Linked DNA regions of Homo sapiens: region 1 is linked to region 2. A link means that fine-mapping ties the variant in region 2 to the expression of a gene that starts in the linked region. Tissue or cell type: aorta. Region 2 holds a variant in brackets; the other region holds the start of a gene. All regions are shown on one strand. Distances are between the middles of the regions.

What was found. PIP is the estimated chance that this variant, and not a neighbour inherited with it, causes the effect.
Region 1: it holds the start of COL6A3, and the variant in region 2 is fine-mapped to the expression of COL6A3 in aorta (GTEx, PIP 0.95).

The regions. Positions count from the first base shown.
Region 1 is chr2:237,411,251-237,416,477 of GRCh38, forward strand. It overlaps COL6A3 (collagen type VI alpha 3 chain), which reads right to left and starts at 2,914. Exons shown (of 44, transcript NM_004369.4): 1 at 2,703-2,914.
Region 2 is chr2:237,308,848-237,314,074 of GRCh38, forward strand. No RefSeq gene overlaps it. Among named protein-coding and RNA genes, the nearest start is that of COL6A3, 100 kb to the right of the region's middle. RefSeq lists an enhancer at 4,330-5,227. The variant G/A (reference allele first, on the strand shown) is at 2,740.

The DNA.
Region 1 (5,227 bases), 100 kb after region 2:
AAATAAAAATTTTTGCTAAAGCTGTTACTGCGCCTGCAAGGAAGTGTCACGCAATAGTATTCACGACTTGCCGGTGAATTTTAAGTCCTAAACATGGAATTTCACATATAAGTGGGAGGTGATATCAACCGCTGGTGAAGACTACGCTTGATCCAGTTGTCTGAACACTCTGAGCAAGGAAACAAATGAAACCTCGCTGGCAAAAAGTCACTGCCAGCTTCCAAAGCTTCCAAAGAAGGCGGTCTTGTTTCAAGCTGGCTTTAGGCATCCAGGTCTATGGGTTCCGTTCCTGAAACTAAGGTCAGGATGAGCAGCCTCATTGGAACCATAAATCAACAATCGACTGAAGAGAGGAGCTTCTTCCTACTTTCTCATCGGGGACGTATTAAGTTCTAGGATAGGAAATCACAAAAGGCACTGATGATAAAGTCAGTGCAATTTGCTGAGTCCTGAATGCTTTAGAAATAAAATGAAGTGTGAAGTAAAGACAATTTTTCAGAAAGGTGCCTACCTCGTATCAAAAATATCATTCAGACCCCAGGTTTGGACATTTGCCACATGTCCCCTCACCTGTGGGCCACAACTATAGTGGGGTGGAACACGCTCCCTGCCAAGCAGGGAAAGAGCGGGGCCAAGGGCTAACATTCTAGAGGCTTCCCCAGCCACCTCCCAGAAAGGTGCTGTAGCCACACCCTCCAATGCCTGGATAGGAAAAGCCAGGACAGCCTCACTTCACCCCAACATGGAATTCCTTCCCAAGCCCTCTGCTCCACTCAGTGTCTGCTTCCTGGCTTCTCTCGACCATGAGTGAGGAAAGGAGAGAACTAAACCTCTGGGTAGCAAGAAACCCCCTAAACAAAGAAGTCCAGACAGGCAGCTGTTCCTACATCCTGATCTTTGTAAAAGCCACGCCTCCCCACCCAGGCTTTCATCCTCAGCTACAAGCCCACTTCAGAAAGAAGAGCATACAGGTCCCCTCCTTCAGCGCCCTCCACCCCCAGGAGGTGGCCTGAGCAGGGCGGCCAGCCCCGGTATTCCGGTCACGGAACCGATGCCCCCGCCCCACGGTCCACCTCCCTTCTTTCTCGGTTCATTGGTAGAGTCTTAGTGAGCCCAAAGCAGTTTTCCCAACGAGATGTGAGTTATTTGGGATCCTCCGTCACTGGCTTGTCTGCTCTCCTTCAATGGGGAAGGATTTCACTGCCATCTCAGGCACTCGCTCCCTGGCCTGGGCAAGGAATTCCGCATCTCAGAGCCCCTGGTTGCTCATTTTGAAAACCAGGAAACTACTGCATCAGTGGCTTCTGACCAAAAATCTCTTCCATTATCTTTAGCCCAACAAAAACCTCAGAAGTCCCAGTAATGTCATCAACGGCCACCCACTCAGTTTTCAATATAGTTTTGCTTAGGAGCAATGTAACTTTGATTTTAAAGCCATTTCGGTTGTTTTTTACAGCATTAAGAATGGGACCCTGGGGAGCTGGGGGATCCCAGGTTGAGCATCCACCATCCCCGTGAGCTCTGAGCACCCTGCAGCTCTAGCACCCTGTGGTCCTCGCCGGGGTGAGCTGTATGTGGGGAGAGAAGCCAGTCAGCCGGGGCCACAGCCCTGCCTCCCCATCCAGCACAGCAGACTCCCCTGTGCTCAGAGGGGTTTGCTCCTGGGGTCTGCACCGGCCTCGAAACTGGCTCCTGGGGCTTCCTGTGGAAGCAGATTTTTCTTTAACCACTCCCTAGTCCCTCCCAGTGACCCCACCCATACTTCAATACCCGTTCATTATCCAACATAGTAGGCCCCTTGAAACAGGTTCCCCAAACAGGCTGGCCACTGTCAGCGAACGTGTCCATCCTCAGCAAGAGAGGGCCCGAGCCCCACCCTGCATCCTCCGGGCCAGAGAACAGCCCTCGGGGCCTCCCAGCTCGGCACTGGCCTCACCTCTGTGCAGCATGGGCTGGCCCTGCAGCCCCAGGGGCCCTGCCTTAGACACTCAGCATGCTGCCCAAATGCCCAATTCCTTCTTCTCCTCTGACCCCTGCAACTCCTTTAAGCAACCCCAAGGGACAAAGTCTCCAATAGAGACTTCAGGTTCCTGGAAAGACGAAAGCTTGACGGCAATGACTGAGCGACCCTTTACTTGGCCCTGATCCTGAGCACCAGAGTTACTCCAATCTTGTGAAAGCAGCAAATGTGCTCCACCAGGACCTTCCCATGGGCGGCCCTGGGCAGAAAACCCATGCAGGTTGTTGCACCCTGACCTAGTGTCACCACCCAGAGAGCTCAGAGAACATCTCCCAGCGGAGCCGCCCGGCAGGGAGCTATGCTAGTCCTCAGCAAAGACGCTTCTGCAAACAAAGCGGATCCCGAATGGGTTTTAGAAGGCGGCAGTAACTTAAATAAATCATGGGCCGAAACACACTGCCGCCCGGAATGCACAGGGCGCGTGTAGCAGCCACAGACACGCGGTGGAAAAGTGCTCACACTCTTAGGCAATCATGACCTTAACCAATTTAAGGAAATCCCATTGCCATAAAGTGAGAAAGAAAAATCAGCGGAATCTTCCAGAGACCTAAAACATGTACAGAAAACTGGCGATCAGCATGAACGTAAGAGCCACTAACGCTACCTAGAAAGGATCACTTCAGGTTAAGAGCATTTCCTTCTAGCCCCAAACCTGGAAAAACAGAAGAGAAATCACACTTACCCCTGAGCAAACCTGAAGGCGTGTGTCCCTGGGCTCCTCGATTCAATTAGGTTTGAATAGGATGCATACTTTTCCCACTCACTGCGTCTCTTTTTCTTTTTGCAGCCTTTCTCCACCAAAAAAGTGGAGACTCAGAGCTGCGGAGGAAAACTCTTGCAGTCCTTGCAGGAGGCTGGAGCCCAGGAGAACTGAACGGCCTTTGGTGGAAGACTGAGCTCCAAACTGGACTGGGGCCAGGGATACCAGTCAGGGCTTCCTCCAGCTCCTCCTCCTCCTCCTCCTCCCTCCCGGACCCCTCCTCTCCCCCTCCTCACTGCAGAACTGACCCAAAACTGTAAATGAAACCAGACTCCTCCACTCTGTTTCTTCTGGCCCCCGCTCAGGCTGATGTCACCCTCTGAATTCTGTCTTCACCCTACAAGCGTTTAGCTGGACTCCTGCAAGCCCCAACTCTTAAAAAAAAAAATTGACCACTCCTACTCGTCACCTTTTGGGCTGGGCCCTTGGCGTCAAAAAGAATAAATTTTGGAATTTCTTCGTGGGTATCCATGGTTTTCCTGCAATGTTTTCCAACACCATCTGAAAGGAAAACAGGAAATGCAGTCCCCCGCTTACCCTCACCACACCCTCCCATTTCTTCTTGAAGTTTCTGAATTGAGACTTCTACTAATAACTTCCCCCTTCAAATAGAAAAACCAGCAATTAAAATCGCCTTGGTTTTCTGTTAACCAAAGCTCTGTTCACCGGCAAAAAAAAGGAGGCTACATTTCTCTTAATTTCTATATCTAATGATTCTGATTGTGGCGCTTATAGGCCCATTCTAGGCACAGACGGGGTAATAAAAATGGTTATCTTGCCAAAGCTTCGGGAAAATACTTGAGTAAGAACTTCTGTTTCTAGAAAGCTTTGCACATTTCAAAACACTTCAATATACATTCTCTCCTTTATCACAAACATCAACACCCTAAGCCCTTTTAAATAGAAAGATGTCTTCTTTTATTAGGTGAAATTGTGGTCCCATTTTACAGATGAAAGAAACAGGCTGGGCACGGTGGCTTATGCCTGTAATCTCAGCACTTCGGGAGGCTAAGGCAGGCAGATCACAAGGTCAGGAGTTGGAGACCAGCCTGGCCAACATGGTGAAACCCCTACTAAATCTCTACTAAAAATATAAAAATTAGCCAGGCATGGTGGCAGGCGCTTGTAGTCCCAGCTATTTGGGAGGCTGAGGCAGGACAATTGCTTGAACCCAGGAGGCAGAGGTTGCAGTGAGCCGAGATGGCGCCACTGCACTCTAGCCTGGGCAACAGAGTGAGACTCCAAAAAAGAGAAAAAGGAAAGAAAGAAAAGAAATGAAAAGAAAAGAAGAGAAGAGAAGAGAAGAGAAGAGAAGAGAAGAGAAAAAAGAAAAAAAGAAAAGAAAAGAAGAAAAGAAAAGAAGTTCCGAGAGAGTAAGTGACATCGTCATTGTCCAGTCTGGGTTAGTAACAGAGCTCAAATGACAACCCAGCTTTGGCCATCCCCAAACTTCTCACTGCTCTCCCATCATGTGGTCCTTATGAAAAGTCCATTAATGTGAAATATCAAGAGACATCCGAAAGGTTCTTTTTGACTGAGAGATCCTTCCAAACCAAGTTTGAAGAGCAAAGAAATCATTAACTCCTTTCCATGGATTATCTCCCTCCAATTTAGGGAAGAAAGGAGACAGCACCCCAGAGAGAATGCCTGCTCCCCTCTGCAGCTCCAGGGCTCCCTTCCTCTCCCATAAAGAAGCCCAACCCATCTCTAAACCAAAGGGCTCACTTGCAGAGCACTGGAGTAGGGAACAAGGATGGAACCTGAATTATGGGGTTCTTAGGTGAAGACACGCTGAGCAGAGGCTCCGAGTATAGAACCGCGCTGCCTGCATGACATGTAGAAGGACAACACGCCCCTCCAGCGGCATCCAATTCTCTGCCCTCATCCTCTCTGCACAGTGCAGGCGTTGACTCAAGCCCCTACAGAGACCGGGGATACTTGCTGCCACCCCCTTGGTTAGAGTCTGCAACTTCAGCACTAAGGAGGACTATTTCTCCCAGAACATTGTCTGCTGCGAAGAAGACAATCTTTGATTACAACCCCATGCTCCAAGCAGCTCAGCAAACTGAGGTTAACTGAACAAGCACGTTTTAGGTGTTTCCACTCCACGGTTTCTTTCAAATACAAATACACTCTTTTTCGCAAAATCGCTAGGCAGATGCATTCCTTGGTATTGAAAGTTTCTATTACAGTCGACCTCGTATCCATGGGTTCTGCATCCATGGATTTAACCAACTGTGGTTCAAAAATGCTTTTTAAAGTAGATGATTGCATATATACTGAACATGTACAGATGTTTTTCCTTGTCATCATTCTCTAAATGACACAGTATAACAACTGTTTACATGGCATTTACACTGTATTAGGTATTATAAGTAATCTAGAGATGGCTTGAAGTACACAGAAGGATGTGCATAGGTTATGTGCAAATACTACACCACCTTCCT
Region 2 (5,227 bases):
GAGGAATAGTGCGGTATTTGTCCCTTTCTGACCGGCTTATTTTGCTTTCTTCTCTTCAACGTTCAGCCAGGTTGTAGGTAACATGGGTCAGAATCCCCTACTTTTTTAAGGCTGAATAATACTCCACCGTGTGGATAGACCACATTTTGTTTATCCATTCATCTATTAATATTCAGCGTCCTTCTTAGCATAGTGGTGTTTCTCCTGGTCTCTCCTTGTATAAATATTTATACCAATTGCTACCGAAAAACACACAATTCCCTCCTCATTTCTGAGTGAACTCTAAGTATCAGAGTGTTCTCAGCAAGCAGTTGGCAGGGGGAAGCAAAAATTGTTCTCAACCAGAAAACATTCACTGAAGAGCTGACCACTTGCCAAATTAGCCTCCATGCCTTCCCCTCTCCCTGCTTAACACTGCAGCTGCCATAACACAGTCAAACCATGTCAGGCGCAGCCATTCTCTTCCTGATTGGAGGAGGCTATTAATACAACAGAAATACAATGCAAATTAACTGCAAACTTCTTCAAAGAATGTAAGATTTTGTGTAGCAGGTGACAGTCATACTAGAGGACTTCTGGAATCACAAAGTCTGGTAGAACAGTTATCACTGAAAAGGGAAAAGTTAACAAAATTGGTGACATTATCAGTGACTCGCAACAAGACTTAATCCCAAAACATCTAAGGGATTAAGAGAGGCCTTGGAAAGATGATTAAATCCCTGGAGCATTTTGACAAGTGTGACTCTCTTCACGAACTTGCCAGAAAGTCAAATGAGAGAATGTTTCATACTTATCATGCAATATCGTGGTCTCACGTGAAGTGTAGCCTTAGCCTGACCCACTAGATATTTCAAAACAATAATTGCACAGCAGGATTGTTCTGCCTTGAGGAGAAGTTAGGAACAGGTTAGAATAAATTGTCAAAGAAATAAAGAAGAACATTTCTGAACTTCTAATCTAAAAAAAATACTTTTGACAAAATTCAACATTTATTCCTAATTGTAAAAAACAATACATTAAAAGAGAAAAATATTTAACATAAATATATATAACATAGTATATAACATGATTGCTTAACGTCTAAATTCAGAACCTAATACCAGAAAACAATGAATGAGACATTCTCAGTGAAGATAGAAATGCTTAATACCACACCATGATGTGTAAGTACTAGGAAGTTTAATAAAATAAGAAAAATAAGAGCTACAAATGTTGGAAATTAATATCAAAATACTATTTATAGCAAAATGATATGATAGTATACCAACAGATGGTGCTGGGACAATTGATTGATAATTTGGAAAAAAAATAAAATTCCTACATTAAACCTCCCTCCAAAAAAATCCACATCTCAGATATTTAAATTTAAAATTAAATAAAATTTAAATTTAAAAATACTAGGAGAAAATATGGGTGACAATTTCTTATGGTTTACTATGTGGTTATAAGTAACAGAAAAGGTTTCAACCTAAATGATGTAGAAAGTGAATTCATTATAATTTATGATATACTATCATTGCTCTTTCTACTAAAGGCCCGCATGGGACTGAATAAGACCTGGAGTGTTTTGGGAAATGAAGATGGCTTTGCTCTCGCTTCCCCTTCCCTTTTCATCAACCTCACAGTAAGTCCAGGACTTCTGCTGCACAGCTTCTGGGCTGCTTGTATAACTCACAAGCAGCCTTATTAGATCTCCTAGTCCCTGCATGTTTCAACCAAATAAGGCACTCTTCGAGACCCTAACAAAAAGAAAAGAAGCCTAAACTCTTGGGTGGACACCAATGGCCACTTCTCCCACGCCCCTCACAAGGTAAGAGGGGCAAACGCTCCTGTCTGGGCATCCCGCCGTGAGGGGCGCTGTTACGCCATGGTGGTGCTGCGCCCTGATGTTTGGGATATTTGGCAGCCTCTCTTTTTCTCCTTGGCAGGCCACTTAGAGCTGCGGTTGGCCCACTGGTTTTTGAACCCAAGGATGACCTGAGTGCTGAGAGCCCTGGGTCCTCAGCTCCCCACCTGAGGTTTCCCTGGCAGCGGAACCCTGGTGAGCTGCCTCTCAATTTCAGGTTGTGATATCCATGTATGAGTCACAGCCTGACATCTCTGAGCGTCAGCCACTCCTAAGCCCGACTGCCTAATATAACTATTGAGATTCAGTTTGCTCCTAGAAAGCAGAGTTAACCCTCGGATGTTGTCCTCTGCTGTGGTTCATTGAGCAAAACCTGGCTCCTGGAGCCCACATTATTAGGGAAGTGGGGCGGGATGTCAGGGGGCCATTCTCAGAGAAGGGGAACCAGGGGCTGAGCAGACGCCCAAACCGCATTCACTCTAGTGTTTTTTAACCTGGAATTAAAGATGGCATTTATAAGCACAGCAGCAGAGATGAACTTTGTAAGGAAAAAAAAAAATTAAAAGGTATGAGTTCAGAAAAATTTAAAACCATATAAATAAAAAGAAAATGATAAATACTTTAAAATTAGCAATATTTGTGAAAGTAATTCAATCAGTAAAGAAATATTTAAAGTAGAACAATAAATAGGCCAAAAGAAAAACAGTCTGGGCACGGTGGCTCACACCTGTAATCCCAGCACTTTGGGAGGCCGAGGCTGGTGGATCACCTGAGGTCAGGAGTTCCAGACCAGCCTAGCCAGCATGATGAAACCTCGTCTCTACTAAAAATACAAAAATTAGCTAGGCATGGTGGCAGGTGACTGTAATCCCAGCTACTCGGGAGGCTGAGGC[G/A]GGAGAATTGCTTGAACCCGGGAGGAGGGGTTGTGGTGAGCCTAGATTGCGCCACTGTACTCCAGCCTGGGTGACAGAGTGGGACTCCATCTCAAAAAAAAAAAAAAAAAAGAAAAAGAAAAAGAAAAGACAAAAAAAAAGAGGGGGCCCAAGCTCTTTGTCTGACTTTCAGACTGGGTTGAATTCAAAAGCAGCTGTGTGACTAAGAGCAATTACAAAACCTCTCTGAGCCTCTGTTGCCCATCTACAAAATGCAAAGCTCCCATCAATGTGGGAATAATTAAACGTGACACTGTGAGCCAGGCATGGAGCTCAATCCCTCAATCCCCTCCATCCCAGAGGAGCTATTGTTTCTGTTGCTGTTAGTTTGGTTGGTTGGTTTGTTTGTTTTCACTGTTGTTGTTTAGAATAAATTGTTTAAAATTTTAACTTCACTAGTAATTTTAACCAATCAAAATAATGCAACATCAATTTCACAAATCAAATTAGCAACAAAGATTTAGTAAAAATGAACATATTTTTAGATGAGAGATGAGACATTTAAAAGACCATTAGTGGGTTGGGTGCATTGGCTCACGGCTGTATTCCCAGCACTTTGGGAAGCTAAGGTGGGTGGATCACCTGAGGCCAGGAGTTCCAGACCGACCAGCCTGGCCAATATGGCAAAACCCTGTCTCTACTAAAAATACAAAAAATTAGCCGGGCATGCTGGTGGGCATCTGTAATCTCAGCTACTCGGGAATCTGAGGCACGAGAATCACTTGAACCTGGGAGGCAGAGGTTGCAGTGAGCTGAGATCACACCACTGCACTCTAGCCTGGATGGCAGGGTGAGACTCTGTTTCAAAAACAAAAACAAAATATAAAATACAATACAATACAATAAAAGACCATTAGTGGGCGTATAAGTTGGTGTAGCTTCTCTAGCGGGCAGTTTGATGATGCATCCCAAAAGACTTTAAAACATGAGCCATCTTGGACACACATATTTCATTTCTTGCAATTTGTCCTGAAGTAACAAAAAGAGAACTGGGTAAATAGCTATGCAAATGTTACTCATCGCTATGTTGTGATAAAAGTGTGCCATCACTGTGGAGTGAAAAAGTAGAAACGACATAGGTGTCCAAGAAAATGAGACGGCGTGACAGTGGTACACGCATACCTATGAAAGATCAGGAGTTTATGAAAACCAAGCTGCAGAATCATACTCAGTCACGAGAAACACAACCGTGATCTCATTAGGAAGGACCGCCGAATACTGGACACTGCTGGCCACATTCTTCTCCTTGATGTTCTCTCCCACCCTCACTCAGTTTCCAGAATCCACCCTCCCACCTCCTTCTTCCTCTCTTCCATTCCCCTTGAAACCTGCGGAAGGCCCCATCCCTGTGTCCATCCCGAAAGGCAGATGCTCCTCAGTGGCCCTTGCCTCTCTTTGCTCACTATACATTCTCTCTGGGTGACAGCATTTGAATCCAAGGCTTCCTTGCCATGCTTGGATGAATAGATCTAACTGCTGGCTAATTAGCTTGTACCCCATAAGGACTCAAAAGCAGGATGCATTAATTTTCTTGACCATTGCATAGCTCATCATGTGTTCCCTGTCTCAAGAACGGTTCCACCATGCACCCAGACAGTTGGGCACCCTTGTCGCTCAGCCCTCTCCTCACCAGACACATCCAGCCAGCCACCAGCCCGGATCCCCTCATTGTCTCCTTCCCATCTCTTCAATCCCCCACCCCTTCCCTTGCCCAGGGCTACAGTCCTCAGGAAAGCCTTCACATCTCTCTCTCTAGACTGTTCACGTCCTCCCTGCTCCACTTGACATAAACCTAATAGTTCATTATAAGGGAAAATGGAGAGTAGATTGTCCTGGATACTGAAATGCAATCATGTCCTCTGCTTCCTTAAACACTTAGTCAATGTTCCTCCCTCTGTGCTGTCTTAAACATAAACTCCTTTGTATGACAGACAGGGCCCTTCAAGACCTATTTGTCAGCTATCAGCCCTGCCAGATCTCCACTATCCCAGGAAGGGCCCCAATGACAAAGCTCATGCCCCCTAAATAATCCCCTCTCTCCAGAGACGTCAAGTGTTTGCACGTGCACAAGCACTCACCGTGCAGAAACGTCTCATCCTTTCAGCCCTACTGAAATGCCAGCCCTGCTACTCAGTCTCCCCAGGTGCTGTTGAGTAGACGTGAATGTGTTTCTCCTCAACTCCCAGGCTTCACCCTCACCTCAATTGGAACAAATATTATCTTGTCTTTACTTGCCTGTGCATCTGTCTCTCAATGCTATTTAAGAGCAAGGGCCAAGATTTTTCATTTTCTTATCCCCACTGCTTTTCACAGTGCGTGGTTCACAGAGGGTCTCTTGATGGCACGCATGCCTTCATCAAAGCTCCTATCATTTTGCACAGCAGTCATTGTTTATACATCTGTTTCCCCTGCTAGGCCAGAGAGACAGAAACTCTAATGCATTCATCCT